2 separate regions of the Homo sapiens genome follow, and region 2 is linked to region 1. A link means that fine-mapping ties the variant in region 1 to the expression of a gene that starts in the linked region. Tissue or cell type: whole blood. Region 1 holds a variant in brackets; the other region holds the start of a gene. All regions are shown on one strand. Distances are from middle to middle.

The links. PIP is the estimated chance that this variant, and not a neighbour inherited with it, causes the effect.
Region 2: it holds the start of FKBP9, and the variant in region 1 is fine-mapped to the expression of FKBP9 in whole blood (INTERVAL, PIP above 0.99).

Annotation. Positions count from the first base shown.
Region 1 is chr7:32,986,951-32,995,162 of GRCh38, forward strand. It overlaps FKBP9 (FKBP prolyl isomerase 9), which reads left to right. Exons shown (of 10, transcript NM_007270.5): 6 at 1,557-1,702. Among named protein-coding and RNA genes, the nearest start is that of FKBP9, 34 kb to the left of the region's middle. The variant C/G (reference allele first, on the strand shown) is at 3,919.
Region 2 is chr7:32,953,366-32,961,577 of GRCh38, forward strand. It overlaps FKBP9 (FKBP prolyl isomerase 9), which reads left to right and starts at 4,075. Exons shown (of 10, transcript NM_007270.5): 1 at 4,075-4,429. The coding sequence starts at 4,209. RefSeq lists enhancers at 2,922-3,872, 3,722-3,771 and a silencer at 3,862-4,331.

The DNA.
Region 1 (8,212 bases):
TCATTATGCTGTGGGGAATTGATTCCTCTTTTTACCAAACTCATGGTAATAGAATCACTCAGTAGTTTACACACAGGCTGGATCTCTCCACTGAGTGGACTTGGGGCTCCTGCCAGGAGCACTTGGAAAACCCAAGTATTCACCAGGGTGGCGGGGTGAGCAGGGGTGATAGTGGGGGCCTTTTGTCGGGCTGTGGTGGAGAGTGCGGAATTCATTACTCTCAGTGTGTATGCTGCTTTCCTGGCGATCGGAATCTTCATGTCAGGCTGGGTGCTGTGGCTCAAGCCTGTAATTCCACACTTTCGGAGGCCAGGGCAGGCAGATCGCTTGAGCCCAGGAGTTCGAGACCAACCTGGGCAACGTGGTGAAACCCCATCTTTACTAAAAATACAAAAATGAGCCAGGCATGGTATTGCATGCTGTAGCCCCAGCCACTTGAGGGGCTGAGGTGGAAGGATCACTTGAGCCCAGGAGGTTGAGGCTGCAGTGAGCTGAGACCAGACCACTTCACTCCAGCCTGGGAGACAGAGCAAGACCCTGTCTCCAAAAAAAAAAAAAATTAAAAAGTAATTAGAAAATAAAAACAGAATATTCATGTCCCACATATGCAGATATTTTCTCTTTAGATATTGGAGACATTATCCTTGTGACACATTCGTAGTTTCTGATAAGGGCTACGTTCGATTCTGTCTTTTGTTTTCAAGACAGGGTCTCATTCTGTCACCCAGGCTGGAGTGCAGTGTTGTGATCTTGGCTCACTGCAACCTCAACCTCTCCGGCACAAGCAGTCCTCTGACTTCAGCCTCCTGAGTAGCTGGGACTATAGGTGTGTGCCACCACATCCAGCTAAGTTTTGTAATTTTGTGGTGACAGAGTTTTGCCATGTTGCCCAGGCTGGTTGAGAGCTTGATTGTTTTCATTAACTTGACATGGTTATAGAGTGTACAGGCTGGGCACGGTGGCTCATACCTGTCAACCCAGCACTTTGGGAGGCCAAGTCAGGAGGATCACTTGATCCAGGAGCTCAAGACCAGGCTGAGCAACATAGTGGGACCCCATCTCTACAAAAAAAAAAAAGTATTAGCTAGGTGTGGTAGCATGTGCTTGTAGTCTCAGCTACTTGGGAGGCTGAGGTGGGAGGATTGCTTGAGCCTGGGAGGTTGAGGCTGCAGTGAGCTGTCTATGATGGTGCCACTGCACACCAGCCTGGGTGACAGAGTGAGACCTTGCCTCAGAAAAAGAAAGTATAGTGTTCAATTTACATTAGCTCCATTTCTGTGTGGTGCTTCTCATAACCCACACTGCATTCATAACCTGATGAAACTGGAGGGCCACATGGCGTGTCCCTACAGGTGGCTGTTCACATGCTGTGTGGGGGTTCTTATTTACCCTTCCAGGGGAGCATGTTTCCTGGCTGTGTCGTCAGATACTGTGGTTTACGCTGTTCCGGAGTCTGGAGGCCTCTGTGTGCCTTTGCATCTCTTTCCCAACTAATTTGCACAGCTGCTGTGGAGGCCCTCATGAATGACCTCTTTCTTTCCTTTCTTCTTTTCTAGCTACTCTCGGAACCGCACGTTTGACACGTACATTGGGCAGGGCTACGTGATTCCTGGGATGGATGAAGGTCTACTTGGTGTTTGCATTGGAGAAAAGCGAAGGATTGTGGTCCCGCCTCACCTGGGGTATGGAGAGGAAGGAAGAGGTGAGCATCAGCATCACCTGCCTTCCTCACTAGCTGTGGCTGCTTCCACATTGCTTGAAACAGGGCTTCTTTTTCTTTTTCTTCTTTCTTTTTGAGATAGGGTCTCCCTCTGTTGAACAGGCTGGAAAGTGTAGTGTGTGATCATCGTGTACTATGGCCTGGAACTCTTGGCCTCAAGTGATCCTCTTGCCTCAGCCTTCAGAGTAGCTGGCACTACAGGCACGCACCACCACACCCTGCACAGAACTTCTTGAGAGCCAAAATATTGAAGCTAAAGTCCAGCTTAAGACTGGAATTCCCAAATAGATTTAGTTTCTAGAGTTGTCCTGTTATTTCTCCTTGTTTCTCTGCCCATTTTCCTTTACCTTTTGAAAATGTTAAATCCTACACCAAAGTCAAAAGCACGTTATGGTGAATTCCACTTTGTTTTGCCAGTTGTTAACATTTTGCTATATTTGATCTCTTTTTATATTTATTTATTTATTTTGGGCTGAACCATTGAAAGTAAGTGCAAAAGCCCCTCTTTGGTTTTTGTTTTATATATTATAAAATTCACCCATTTAAGTATACAATTTAGTGACTTTTAGAACATTTAGTGGGTTATGTCACCATCACTATAATCCTGTTTTAGAACATTTTTGTCACCCTCATACCACACTTCCTTTTAAAAGTTACACAAATCATACATGTTGACTTTAGAAAAAGAAAATACAGTTAAGCAAAGAAATCCTGCCACCCAGAAATAAAGATTTTTTTTCCTTTTTTTCTTTTTTCTTTTTTTGAGATAGAGTCTCATTCTGTCACCCAGGCTGGAGTACAGTGGCACGATCTTGGCTCACTGCAACCTCTGCCTCCTGGGTTCAGGTGAGTCTCGTGCCTTAGCCTCCCAAGTAGCTGGGACTACAGGCATGTGCCACCACGCCTGGCTAATTTTTTTTTTTAATTTTCAGTAGAGATGGAGTTTCACTATGTTGGCCAGGCTAGTCTCAAACTCCTGGCCCAAGTGATCTGCCCACCTTGGCTTCCCAAAGTGCTGGGATTATAGATGTGAGCGCCATGCCATGCCAGAAACAAATATTGTTAATCTTAATCTGGTAGGCAGAATATTCAGCCCCTCCAAGTATCTATGTTCTAATCCCCAGAACCTGTGAGTATGTTACCTTACTTTATTTTGTTTTGAGACAAAGTCTTGTTCTGTTGCCCAGGCTGGAGTGCAGTGGTAAGATAAGCTCCTAACTCACTGCAGCCTCCAGCTTCTGTGTTAAAGTGATCCTCCTGCATCAGCCTCCTGAGTAGCTAGGACTACATGTGTGTGCTACCATGCACGGCTAATTCAAAAGCAATTTTTTTTTTTTTGTAAAGACAGACATGGTCTTGCTATGTTTCCCAGGCTTGTCTGGAACTCCTGAGCTCAAGCAATCCTCCCACCTTGGCCTTCTGAAGTGCTGGGATGACAGGTGTGAGCCACCATGCCTAGCCTCCTGTTACCTTATTAAAAGGGACTTTACAGATTTGATTAAGGATCTTGAGATAGGAATAGTATTCTAGATTATCCAGGTGGCCTCAAAATACTTGCAACAGTCTTTGTAAAAGGGAGGCAGGGGGTCAGACCGGGGAAAAAGTGCTAAACTGCTGACTTAGAAGATACAGAAGGAGGACCCTGTCAGGGAATGAAGGTGGCCCCGAGAGGCTGGAAAAGATGGAAACACATTCTCCCCGGCAGCCTCCAAAAGGAACATATCCCTAACAATACCTTGAATTTATGCTTCTGCCTTCCAGAATTAGGGGAATCCGTTTGCGTTGTTTTAAGCCAACAAGTTTGTGGTATTTTGCTGCAGCAACAGTAGGAAACAAATGCAGCCATGAAGTGAATGTCCTTCTGTACCTTTGAGTTTATGTATAGGTTTAAAAAAAAATGCCCACCTACACTAATCAATACGGACAAACATGGGATTGTCTATGCGTATTACTTTGTGATTTCTCTCTTCACCTAATTTGTGGTGAACAACAGATATGTTGTGAACAACTTTCTATGCTATGTATTTTAATGGCTGCTCCCTCGCTTAGCAATAGTTGATGCAGTATTTATTTTGTTTTTGTATTCTTTTGCTGATGGAGGCTGGCCTTGCTGGCTGTACATTTATTTTGTTAGTTCTGTTCTGTTTTTTTGTTGATACATCATATGTATCTTGAGAGTTTTCCCAGTAGTGTTCATC[C/G]CAGAGGATCCAAGAAACGTCAAGTTGGTTGGAAGGTAGGTTGTACAATGGAGAAATATTTTTTTCTCCCTGACTTAAATTTCTGATTGATTAAACCACAACAGATCACAGCTTAAGATCCATTCGACAGGGCTTTCTTCACACATCCTGCTTGTCTAGTGTCTTGATTCTCTATTGCTTTTTATCGTGTGGATTTCTACTTCTAGTCAAATATAAACAGAAACAGATAAATACTTTCTGAATGTTCTTGTTTCTTTATGGCCTGAGGACTAATCTTTCCTTTCTTTGAAAAGAATGCATTGATGGAAAACATTTGCTTAAATTACTTTTTTTCCTCTTGGCTTTCTATCAAGTATGAGACAGAGCTCTGCAAAGAATTATATAAGCCTCTGGGAAGCAGCCGAAGGCTCGTAAATTTTCTGGGCAATGAGACTCCTTCATCCTGAATCACGTTGCTGTGGGAGGAGGGCACCCTGAGTGACCCTGAGGTATAAACCCCAAGTGCTCTTGAGTGGAGTCTGCCTCTGTCCTCTCCTGATCAGCACCCTTGGCCTCTTTGTGGGGGTTACATAGGAGCTCGTGCTGATCCCTGAGGGGCTGACCCGAGAGGGGTCAGGATGCTGAAACTGTCTTCTTAGTGGCTTCTTCACTGCATACCACAGGGCCAGGCACATTGTGAATGTTTGGCAAATATTTGTGGAAGGAATGAATTGTGGGCTGACCGTGTGCTCTCAGCCTCTATCAGCATTTCATTCTGTCACAGCCATTTTCCCCTGCAAGATTGGTGGAGGGGAAAGGGTAGGCCTCCTGGGAGAGGTTCTGGATCTTTCTGCCATCTGCTTTGTTCCATGGGTCAGCCCTGAAATTAGGGCATTTGGATGGGTTTGCAGCCTCAAAGTGGAGAATGGATTCTGCCTGCGAGGATGTGTAAGCATCACTTCATCGATGGTTTGCTGTTACTCAACTTCCAGATTACCTTTTGAGCACCCTTTTAGGAAAGAGAGGAAAGTTAATAAATTACATTTTACCCACTGTGTGTCTGGGACTTCTTGCACATGAACTCATTCAAACCTGGAAACAGTCTTCTGAGGCATCATTACCCTCATTGTTTAGAAATATAATGAGGCCCAGAGAGTTCCACCCATGTGTCCAAGGCCACAATAGCTAATCCATGATGGAGCTGGAATTGGACCCAGGGCTCTCTGACCCATATGTGTCCTAGACAGACAGAAAGAATGAGTCCCCATTAGGTAGTGACTTGTTGATACCCATATGTGGAGAACCGAGACCTCAAACCAGAAGTCCTAGAGCTCTCAGAGGAAACACACCCGCTCAGAGGAAACCCACCTTCCTCAGAGGAAACCCACTCCCCTCAGAAGAAACCCACCCCCGCAGAGGAAACCCACCCCCTCAGAGGAAACCCACCCCCCTCAGAGGAAACTGACTCTCTGCAGAGGAAACCCACCCCCCGCAGAGGAAACCCACCCACCGCAGAGGAAACCCACCACCAGCAGAGGAAATCCACCCCCAGCAGGAGCTGCAGAGTTTCTTGGGTGGGCTATTGGCCGCTTTTAAGTTTTTCTCATCTGTATCTCTTCTGAGGGAGGCATCCTCATGGTGAGAACAGAATGATGACTTCTGCATTGGTTAAGGGTTTATACAGAGAGGAGGTTGGTGTTGGAGCCACGTTGGACTATTTCTGCCCGTTTGCTGGTCAGCACTCATTTCTATACTTAATCTACAAATAGCTTTGTGGAAGTCAGAGCAAGATAGAGGGATAGAGGTTCGAAGCCTTGGTGCTGCCTGGGGTAGGTGGGGTCTATGGTTCAAGGCTCTGATCTTCATTTTTGCAGGCGGAGAAACTCCATCTATCCATCCATCAAAGATTTATTGAGTTTCTTCATGACCAGGCCCTGCTCACGGTGTTAGGGATTCAGCAGAAAGAAACACAAACAAAACTTCCTACGCACACAGAGAGTGTTTCCTTGTTGACGCCCTCAATAATGTGTGTGCCTCAGAGGTTATCAGGCACCTGGGAGACTGACTCACGTTAACTTCCTAGAAGCTGACATACTCACCTGATGCTACATGGTTCCTTGACTGGGTGTGAATCGACCTCTACACTGGTTGGAATTCTTGTGCCTGGAATCCTCGGGGCCTGAGAGGCTGAGTTCATTTGACTGCTGACATCAGATCCCAGGGATGTGGGTGGTTCCAGATGCATTCCCTTTTGCCCTGGAGAAGGCCCTGCACCTGAATGCATCTTGGAGGGGAGATTATATTTGAATTGATAAAATTTGGTGACTGCTTAGCTCAGTGTTAGAAGTTTTTAAAATTTGTGGTAAAATATACTTAACATCTTTACCTTGTTAACCATTTTAAGTGTACAGTTTAGTGGCATCAAATATATTCACAATGTTGTATAACCATTACTATCATCTACACTCAGAACTCTTTCATCATCCCCAACATAAACCCATTACACAATAACTCCCGATTCCTCCCTCCTATCAACCTCTGACAACCACCTTTCTTTCTGTCTCTACCAATTTGCCTATTCTAAGTGCCTCACTTGAGTGGAATCATACAATATTTCTCTTTCTGTGTCTGTCTTATTTTACTTAGCATAATGTTTTCAAGGTCTATTTGTATTTTAGCATTTATCAAAATTTCAAGCTGGGCGCGGTGGCTCACGCCTGTAATCCCAGCACTTTGGGAGGCTGAAGCAGGCGGATAACCTGAGGTCAGGAGTTCAAGATCAGCCTGGCCAACATGGTGAAACCCTGTCTCTACTAAAAACACAAAAATTAGCCAGGTGTGGTGGTACGCGTCTGTAATCTCAGCTGAGGCAGGGAAATCGCTTGAACCCGGGGGACGGAGGTTGCGGTGAGCTGAGAACATGCCAATGCACTCCAGCCTGGATGACAGAGCAAGACTCCATCTCAAAAAAAAAAAATTAATTCCTCATTTCTGGCTAATAAATTTCATTCCTTTTTATTGCTGAATGAATATTCCATTGGATGTATATACTACATTTTGTTGATCAGTTCGTCTGGTGATGAACACTTAGGCTGTTTCTACTTTTTGTCTGTTGTGAATAATGCTTAATGCTTCTGTGAATATGAGTGTACAAATATCTGTTCGCATCTCCAGCTTCAATTCTTTTGTATATATACCCAAGAAAGATATTTTTATTTAATGTTTTCTTGAAATATAATTCACATACTATAAAAATAATCATGTTAAAGTTTACAATTTAGTTGTTTTTAGTATATTAACCAGGTAACATAACCATTACCTCTACCTAATTCCAGCACAGTTTCATCACTCCAAAAAGTAACCCATAACCATTAGCGGTCACTCTCCGTACCCTGTCCTCATCCATCCACTTCCCCCACGCTGGCAACAGGTAGTCTATTTCTTGTCTGTATGGATTTGCTTATGCTGGATGTTTCCATATCCCTGGAATCCTACAGTATGTGGCCTTTTGTGTCTGGCTTCTTTCACTTAGCATAATGTTTTCGGGTTCATTCCCAGGTGATTTTTAACAGGTTACCAAGGTTGAGGAACCATAGATCTGCCTCTGCAGACACCCACCCTGTCCATGTGTGTTAGCTTCCCACACAGAGCCATCCGTGGCCTGGCTTTGAGCAGCCTTCTGGCCAATGGCAGGCTGTACTTCCTGGTTCCTGTGGGAAGGAGCCTGCACCCCACTCCACCCACACCAGCAGCCCCTGTTTTGAGTGAGTAGCAGGCACCTGTGTTCTGCTATTAAAGCACACGCTTCTCAAATTATTACCTTTAACTTTGGCCAGCCCCAAAATTTGTACCTCCATTTTCTCAGGATTTTAATGAGAATTAAACAATACATGTTTAATTTAGAAGAATGCCTGGTACTCAATAAACGCCTATTAAATATGAGCGTGAGTGTGTTTCTATTAGAGATAGGAGAGAGACCAATCAAGAAGCAGACACAGAAAAGTACGTGTTGGGACAGGAGGTAAGGAGGGACTGTTGGAGTTTGTGTATCTCTATCTGAATTTTGTCATTAGCTGTGTTATTCTCTTGAATAAGTAATATCATGTCTGAATTTTTCATTTCTTTCTTTCTTTCTTTTTTGAGGACGGAGTCTCACTCTGTTGCCCAGGCTAGAGTACAGTGGTGCAATCCTAACTCACTGTAGCCTTGACCTCCTGGCCTCAAGCAATCCTCCTGCCTCAACCTCCCGAGTATCTGGGACTACAAGTGCTCACCACCACGCCCAGCTAATTTTTTTGTAGAGACATTTGGCTGT
Region 2 (8,212 bases), 34 kb before region 1:
GGGGTGTTCACTTATGCTTACACATTTGTTTTGTCATATAGTTGTAAGGGTTTTTTTGTTTGTTTGTTTTGAGACAGAGTCTCACTCTGTTGCCCAGGCTGGAGTGCAGTGGTGTGATCTGGGCTCACTGCAACCTCCGTCCCTGGGGTTCAAGTGATTCTCCTGCCTCAGCCTCCCGAGTAGCTGGGATTACAGATGCCTGCCACCACGCCCAGCTAATTTTTGTATTTTTAGTAGAGACGGGGTTTCACCATCTTGGCCAGGCTGGTCTTGAACTCCTGACCTCATGATCCACCCGCCTCAGCCTCTCAAAGTGCTGGGATTACAGGCGTGAGCCACCATGCCTGGCCGTAAGTTGTTTTTTTTTTTTTTTTTTTTTTTTTTTTGAGATGGAGTCTTGCTCTGTCGCCAGGCTGGAGTGCAGTGGTGCGATCTCAACTCACTGCAAGCTCCCCTTCCCGGGTTCACGCCATTCTCCTGCCTCAGCCTCCTGAGTAGCTGGGACTACAGGCGCCCGCTACCACGCCCGGCTAATTTTTGTATTTTTAGTAGAGATGGGGTTTCACCGTGTTAGCCAGGATGGTCTCGATCTCCTGTCCTCGCGATCCGCCCGCCTCGGCCTCCCAAAGTGTTGGGATTACAGGCGTGAGCCACAGCGCCTGGCCAAGTATTTTTTTAATTTATCATTTGTCTTTAAAAAATTTGTGACATTTTTTAATAGCAAGATTTTTTTTTTCTTTTTTGAGACAGAGTCGTGGTATGTTGCCCAGGCTGGACTTGAACTTCTGGGCTCAAGAGATCCTCCCACCTCAGGCTCTCAAGTAGTTAGGACTACAGGCTCCTAGATCCTGCCACCACGAGCAGACATTCATTTTTATTTTATTTTATATATATTTTTAGACAGGCTCTCACTCTGTCACCTAGGCTGGAGTGCAGTGGTGTGATCACAATTCATTGCAGCCTCCATCTTCTAGGTTGAAGATGATCTTCCACCTCAGCCTCCGAAGTAGCTGAACGGGGACTACAGGTGCAGGCCGCCCTGCTCTACCTTTTTTTTTTTTTTTTTTTTTTTTTTTTGAGACAAAGTCTCTCTCTGTCACCCAGGCCAATTGTGCAGTGGTGAAATCATGGCTCACTGCAGCCTCAACATCCAGGGCTCAAGCGATCCTCCAACATCAGCTTCCCAAATAGCTGGGACTACAGGCACACACCACCACATCTGGCTAATTTTTGTTTGGTTTTTGTTTTTCTTTTTGAGACAGGGTATCACTCAGTTGCCCAGGCTGGAGTTTATTTTTTCTGTAAAGTAGTGATTACACCTATGACCTTATACAGAGTTGTCATGAAGATTGGACTTCTTGGCATCTAGTTCAAAAGATCAAGTTTCAAATCCCAAGTCTTTACCAATTAATATGTATTGTATGTTTAGCGTCTGAGCCTAGAAACTAATTCAGCACCAAGATATTTCCCCAAATTGCCGTAAGAGGTCAGTAGGCAAGATAAGTATCATCTGTTTTACAGTCAAGGGTGGAAGTAAGAAGTTACCTGACTTGCCTGAAGCCACGGAGACATAAGTGAAGCAAAGACTGGACCAAAGTATATGTGTAGTGAATGAACTGAATGTCTGAATTCATGCCAATAAAATGTATAACAATTTTTATTATCAATGATTATATACTTCAAAATCAAGGTATTGTTTGACAACACAAAGATGACATGCAAAAGTACTTTTTGGTGGTCAGTGCCATTAATAGACTTAATAGACTACAATCAGAAAGTTTTTTCTTTTTTTTTTTTTTTTTTTTTTGAGATAGAGTTTTGCTCTGTCACCCAGGCTGGAGTGCAATTGTGCGATCTTGGCTCAGTGCAACCTCTGCCTCTGGGGTTCAAGCGATTCTCCTGCCTCAGCCACCGGAGTAGCTGGGATTATAGGCATGCAACACCACACCTAGCTAATTTTTGTACTTTTAGTAGAGACGGGGTTTCACCAGGTTGCCCAGGCTGGTCTCAAACTCCTGAGATCAAGCAATCTGCCCCCCTTGGCCTCCCAAAGTGCTGGGATTACAGGGGTGAGTAATTTTTGTATTTTTTCGTAGAGGTGGGGTTTTGCCATGTTGCCCAGGCTGGTCTCAAACTCCTGGGCTCAAGTGATACTCCTGCCTCGGCCTTCTAAAGTGCCAGGATTACAGAAGTGAGCCACCAGGCCCTCTGTTTGTTTTCAAAATCAGAGGTAGATGTTGAATTTTATCTCATGCCGTTTTGAGTCTATGGCCACATGATCTTAGAGCTTTTTTTCCCTTCTTCTGTCCTATAATTTTATTAATAGGTGTTCTATTTCTAGAATAAGCTCTAAGATGAACAATGAACATTTTTCTTGTTATTCATGTAGTTTCTCATTCGATCCCTGAAACCTAAGATTATAGTAATCTTATAATGATTGTTTTATCTTCATCTTACAGAGAACACTGACATTTTGTTAATTTACAGAAGCTCACCTAGGTAGCCCATGTAATGGTATATTTTTCCTTTAACATACCGTTTTTTAAATTTTTTATTTATTTTTTTTTTGAGGCAGAGTCTCACTCTGTCGCCTGGGCTGGAGTGCAGTGGTGCAATTTAGTGGCACAATCTCGGCTCATTGCAACCTTCGACTCCCAGGTTCCAGCAATTTTTCTGCCTCAGCCTCCCAAGTAGCTGGGACTACAGGCCGTGCCACCACACCCTGCTAATTTTTGTATTTTTAGTAGAGCCAGGGTTTCACCATGTTGGACAGGCTGGTCTTGAACTCCTGACTTCAGGTGATCCAACCACCTCGGCCTCCCAAAGTGCTAGGGTTACAGGTGTGAGCCACTGCGCCTGGCCTAATATGCGGTTGAATCCGATTTTATTACGTTTTATTCAGTATTTTTGCATTTATATTTATAAATTAGATCGTGCCCTGTTTTTTCAGTTTTATTTTTCTTTTTTGTTGCTCTCTTTGCCAGGTTTTGGTATCAGAATTGTGTTTGCTTCCAAAACGAGTTGAGAAAGAGTTGGTGATTTGCTTTCATTATTCCAAAATTTTAATAAATTATAACACCCAATTCCAATTCCAAGTGCATCTGATTACTCTAATGGATTCCTGTGGCTTCTGGGTCTCTATGATGAAGTCCTCCCTGGCATAGGCTCGTATATGGGAGCTTGTAGGATGTCTGCAAGTATCAGCTCACAGTGCGGCCGCTGATGGCTTGGAGGACCCTCACGGTGCCTTAAAACTTTTGCCTAGACAAGTGTCACGGGAGCCTCTCGCAATACATGCCTCCCTTTTCTTTTTTTGGAGACAGTGTCTCGTACTGTCGCCAGGGCTGGTGTGCAGTGGCGCGATCTCGGCTCGCTGCAACCTCCGCCTCCCGGGTTCCAGCGATTCTCCTACCTCAGCCTCCCGAGTAGCTGGGACTACAGGCACGCGCCACCAAGCCTGGCTAATTTTTTTGTATTTTTAGTAGAGACGGGGTTTCATCATGTTGGCCAGGATGGTCTCCATCTCCTGACCTCGTGATCCGCCTGCCTTGGCCTCCCAAAGCGTTGGGATTACAGGCGTGAGCCACGGCGCCCGGCCTTCCTTTTCCTTTAAGCAGTATTAAAAAAAAAAAAAAAAAGTCCTGAAGGATGGTTTCGGTCTCTTTCAAGGTAGACCATACCCTTGTAACTAAGCTTAAAAAATTAAAATCTAATTTTCCCTCCCTCTCCAAAGCAGCAAGGGAAAATTGGATCCACGGCCACGTAGGAGCCCCTCACGGCACCAAACCCGGTGTCTCCAGGGACGGGCGGAGACCAGCGGGTGGGCTTGGGCAGTACGCGCTTTTCTCTTCCGACTTTGGGCCAAAGCCTTGTCCGGAGATCACAGTGTCTCGCTCGGGGACACGCCCTCTCTAGGCCCAGACTTGGTCCCCACTGGAGTTCCCAGCCCCCCTCCCCGCTGCGGCACGCACATTCCCAATGCCGGGCGGGGCAGGGCGCAGCAGGCCCGCCCTCGGCGCGCGGCCAGGCTGGGCTCCTCCCCTGGAGCTGCGGCCGGGAGGGCGGGCGGCCGGGGAGACGGGGTGGCGGCTGCAGCCCGGGTAGGGCCAGGAGACCCGGTCCACGTTTGCAAACGCAGCCGAACGCCCAGGCCGACCCGTGCCGCCCGAGCGCCGCGCTGCGTCCGCGCCACTCTTCTCGCCGCCCCGATGGCGTTCCGGGGCTGGAGGCCCCCGCCGCCACCGCTGCTCCTGCTGCTGCTCTGGGTGACCGGGCAGGCAGCGCCCGTGGCGGGCCTGGGCTCCGACGCGGAGCTGCAGATCGAGCGGCGCTTCGTGCCCGACGAGTGCCCGCGCACCGTGCGCAGCGGCGACTTCGTGCGCTACCACTACGTGGGGACGTTCCCCGACGGCCAGAAGTTCGACTCCAGGTACCGCGCCCTTGGCGCCCGGCGCGGCCTCAGCGGATGCGCGTCCCTCTCTCCGGACAGGCCTTTCCCTCCTGCCGGACCTCCCCTAGCTCCGCCCCGTGCAGCCGCGCTCCTCCCTTCTTCCGCTGCCCAGATCCTCCCGGACCCCAGACCCTCCGCCGCGGGTGAGCCTCCCGGCCCTCACGTGCCCTAGGCTGCCAGCCGGGGACTGGACCCTTGGAGGACCTTGAGCAGCGGGGTTGGGGCAGACCACGTCCTCCCTTTCCTCCCAGCGCATGGACACACGCAAAATCAGTGTAAAATAATCAGTGTAAGTGGAGGCCACGTTGCACAACTGGACCCCCAAGAGTGGATGTTCGTGCCTGCCTCTCTTCGCCCTTTCCTGTTCCTTCCCTCCGCTCCCTTGGGAATCTAGTCAGATGGTGCTTCTCACACAGAACAATGATGAAGAGGCTAGCAGCCCCAAACATACAATGAGCTGTTAACAATGTGTAGGTGTAGTTCTAAGTACTTTCCATATTGTAGTGAACTCATTTAATTGTACAGCAGTCTTGTGAGGTAGGTACTATCACTACCCTCATTTTATCAGTAAGGTAACAAGCAACTGCGGCTAAGAAACGTGTTTAAACAATGGAGTCAGATTGTTTAATCCAACTCCAGAGTCTGTGTGCGCAACTACCACTGCCCTTCCTTTCCTGCCATACAAAAACCTCTCTTGGGGCTGGGCGTGGTGGCTCACGCCTGTAGTCCCAGCACTTTGAGAGAACGAGGCGGGAGGATCGCTTGAGCCCAGGAGTTTGGGGCTGCTGTGAGCTATGATCGTGCCATTGCACTGCAGCCTGGGAGACAGAGAGAGATCCCATCACAAAACAAAACACAACACGACACCTCTCGTGGGCAGGAGGTAGTCCAGGACCGTCACTCTGCTTTATACCAGGCCCTATATCAAGCCCAGAACTCCTTCTCTCAGCTCTGCCTCAGGATCACAGCACTGCTCTCCCGTTTCCCTCCAGTTTAGGTTCGGGGTTAACAGGCCTCTCTTCGTCCAGCACCAGGCTACTCCTCGCCAAGGCTTTTGTTACAAACCCTGGTCTGTGCCAGCACTTCCCTTCGCGAACACTAGATCAGGCAGAGAGAGCTATTTGTTGAGCCCCTGCTATGTGCCCCAAGGCCTAGGGTCATTACGAATATTTTGTAGACTCTTGACTTTTTTGAAGTTCCAGACAATGAATATACAAAAGCTGTTCAGCATAGTATGTGGCACTAGCAAGCGCTTAGAAATGGTCATTCTTACTACCATTTTAGTTACTTTAAAAAAAAAAAACAACAGGCCGGGCGCGGTGGCTCACGCCTGTAATCCCAGCACTTTGGGAGGCCGAGGCGGGCGGATCACGAGGTCAGGAGATCGAGACCATCCTGGCTAACACGGTGAAACCCGGTCTCTACTAAAAATACAAAAAATTAGCCGGGCGAGGTGGCGGGCGCCTGTAATCCCAACTACGCGGGAGGTTGAGACAGGAGAATGGCGTGAACCTGGGAGGCGGAGCCTGCAGTGAGCCGAGACGTGCCACTGCACTCCAACCTGGGTGACAGGGAGACTCCGTCTCAAAAAACAAAACAAAACAAAAAACAAAAAACGAAACAAAAAAAACAGCTTTATTGAGATATAATGCCATACAATTTGCCCATTTGGTGTGTACAATTCAGTGTTTTTTAGTATATTCACAGAGTAGTGCAAACATCACAACTAGCTATTTCCAGAACATTTTCATCACCCCCAAAAAAGAAACGCTGGACCCATTATCAGTCACTCCCCAACCCCAGTTAGACTGCCCTCCAGTCCCTTTCAGCCACGAATCCACTTTATGTCTCTATGGATTTGCCTCTTCTGGACATTTTGTATAAATGGAATCATATAATTTGAGGTGCTTTGTTATTTATTTATAATTGGCTTCTTTCATGGTTCATTTACGGTGTAAGGTATATCAGTACTTCATTCCTTTTTGTGGCTGTATATGTAATATTCCATTGTGTCCATTCATCAGTTGATGGACATTTGGATTGCTTATACTTTTTGGCTATCATGAATGATGTTATGAACATTCATGTGCAAGGTTTTGTGTGGATGTACCTTTTCCTTTTTTTGGATATATACCTAGGAGTTGGAATTGCTGCGTCCTATGGCACCTATGTTATAAACGTTTTGAAGAATAGCCAACCTGTTTCCCCACAATGGCTGCACCATTTTACATTCCCACCAGCAGTGTATGAAGGTTCATAGTTCTCCACGGTCTCAACAACACTTGTACTTGTCTTTTTTTTTTTTTTTTTTTTTGAGATGGAATTTTGCTCTTGTCACCCAGGCTGGAGTGCAATGGTGCGATCACAGCTCACTGCAACCTCCCTGCCTCCCGGGTTCAAGCAATTCTCTTACCTCAGCCTCCTGAGTAGCTGGGATTACAGGTGCCTGCCACCACGCCTGGCTAATTTTTGTATTTTTAGTAGAGACGAGGTTTCACCATGTTGGCCAGGCTGGTCTTGAACTCCTGACCTCAGGTGATCTGCCCACCTCGGCCTCCCAAAGTGCTGGGATTACAGGCGGGAGCCACCACGCCTGGCCTGTGTCTTTGATTATAACCATTTAGTGGGTGTGAAATGATATCTCATTGTGGTTTCGATCTGCATTTCTCTAATGGCTAACGATGTTGAGCATCATATGCGTATTGACCATTTGTGTATCTTCTTTCATGTGCTTCTTTCATAGGGAAGAATTTCTTGCTTGAGTTGATGGTAATTAATTCCAGTAGAACAAGTTGTCCTACTATCTAGAACATCTCTAGGGCTGGCAGCCACTGTGAGGTAGTGTAGGGCAGTTGAAAGAGCATGGAGGATCTACCATCCATTCATCAAACGTTTTTCAGCGTCTATCCCTCAAGAGAGAGACTAGTCCTAGTCTAGTATGCTTCTTCCCCATCCCTACCACTTACAGCCTAGGCTATTACAACATGGTGTGATAAGTACAGTAAGACAGTAGCACACACTCTGTCTCTCATAGAGTTCACACATAGTTCTTACCATGTGCCTTCACATATGTTAACTCATTTAATCTTAGAATAATTTGTTTAACTTCTCAAGACAGTGAGGTAGGTACCTCATTACAAATGAATAAACTGAGGCTCAGAAAGTTCAAATGATTTGCCCAAGGAACATAAGTACTAAGTGGTTGAGTGGAGATTTGAACCCAGGTAGTTCATGGCCATAATCTATGGTCTGTAGTCCACCCATGTATATGACAGAAGAAAGGTAAGTAGCTATGAAAGCACAGAGAAGGTTTAACTATATATTTTTGTGTCTGTGTGTGGGGGAGGTTAGGATGGAATCCTGGTATGGCAGGGATAAGACCCAAGGATGATGAAAATTCACCTGGGAGGAGCTCAGGGGTGTGTCTGCAGACCCCAAGGTCCAGGCTTGTCTTTTGATAAATATTATTATGTGCCTACCACATACCTTTTTGGGTATACAGAGTTCTAGATGCTCTAGCACAGTAGTGTTTAAACTACATATACTTCTGAATCACGTAGAGAGCTTGTTATACAGTTTCCGATTCAGTAGCTCTGGGATAGGGCCTAGGAATTTGCTTTTCTGACAAGTTCCCAGCTGATGCTACTGGTCTGAGGACCACACTTTGAGAACCACTGCTCTAAAACAGGGGTACTGAAATGGGATATCAATTTACAAAAATAAATAAATAGTAAATAAATAAATAGAACAGGGGTCCCTAAC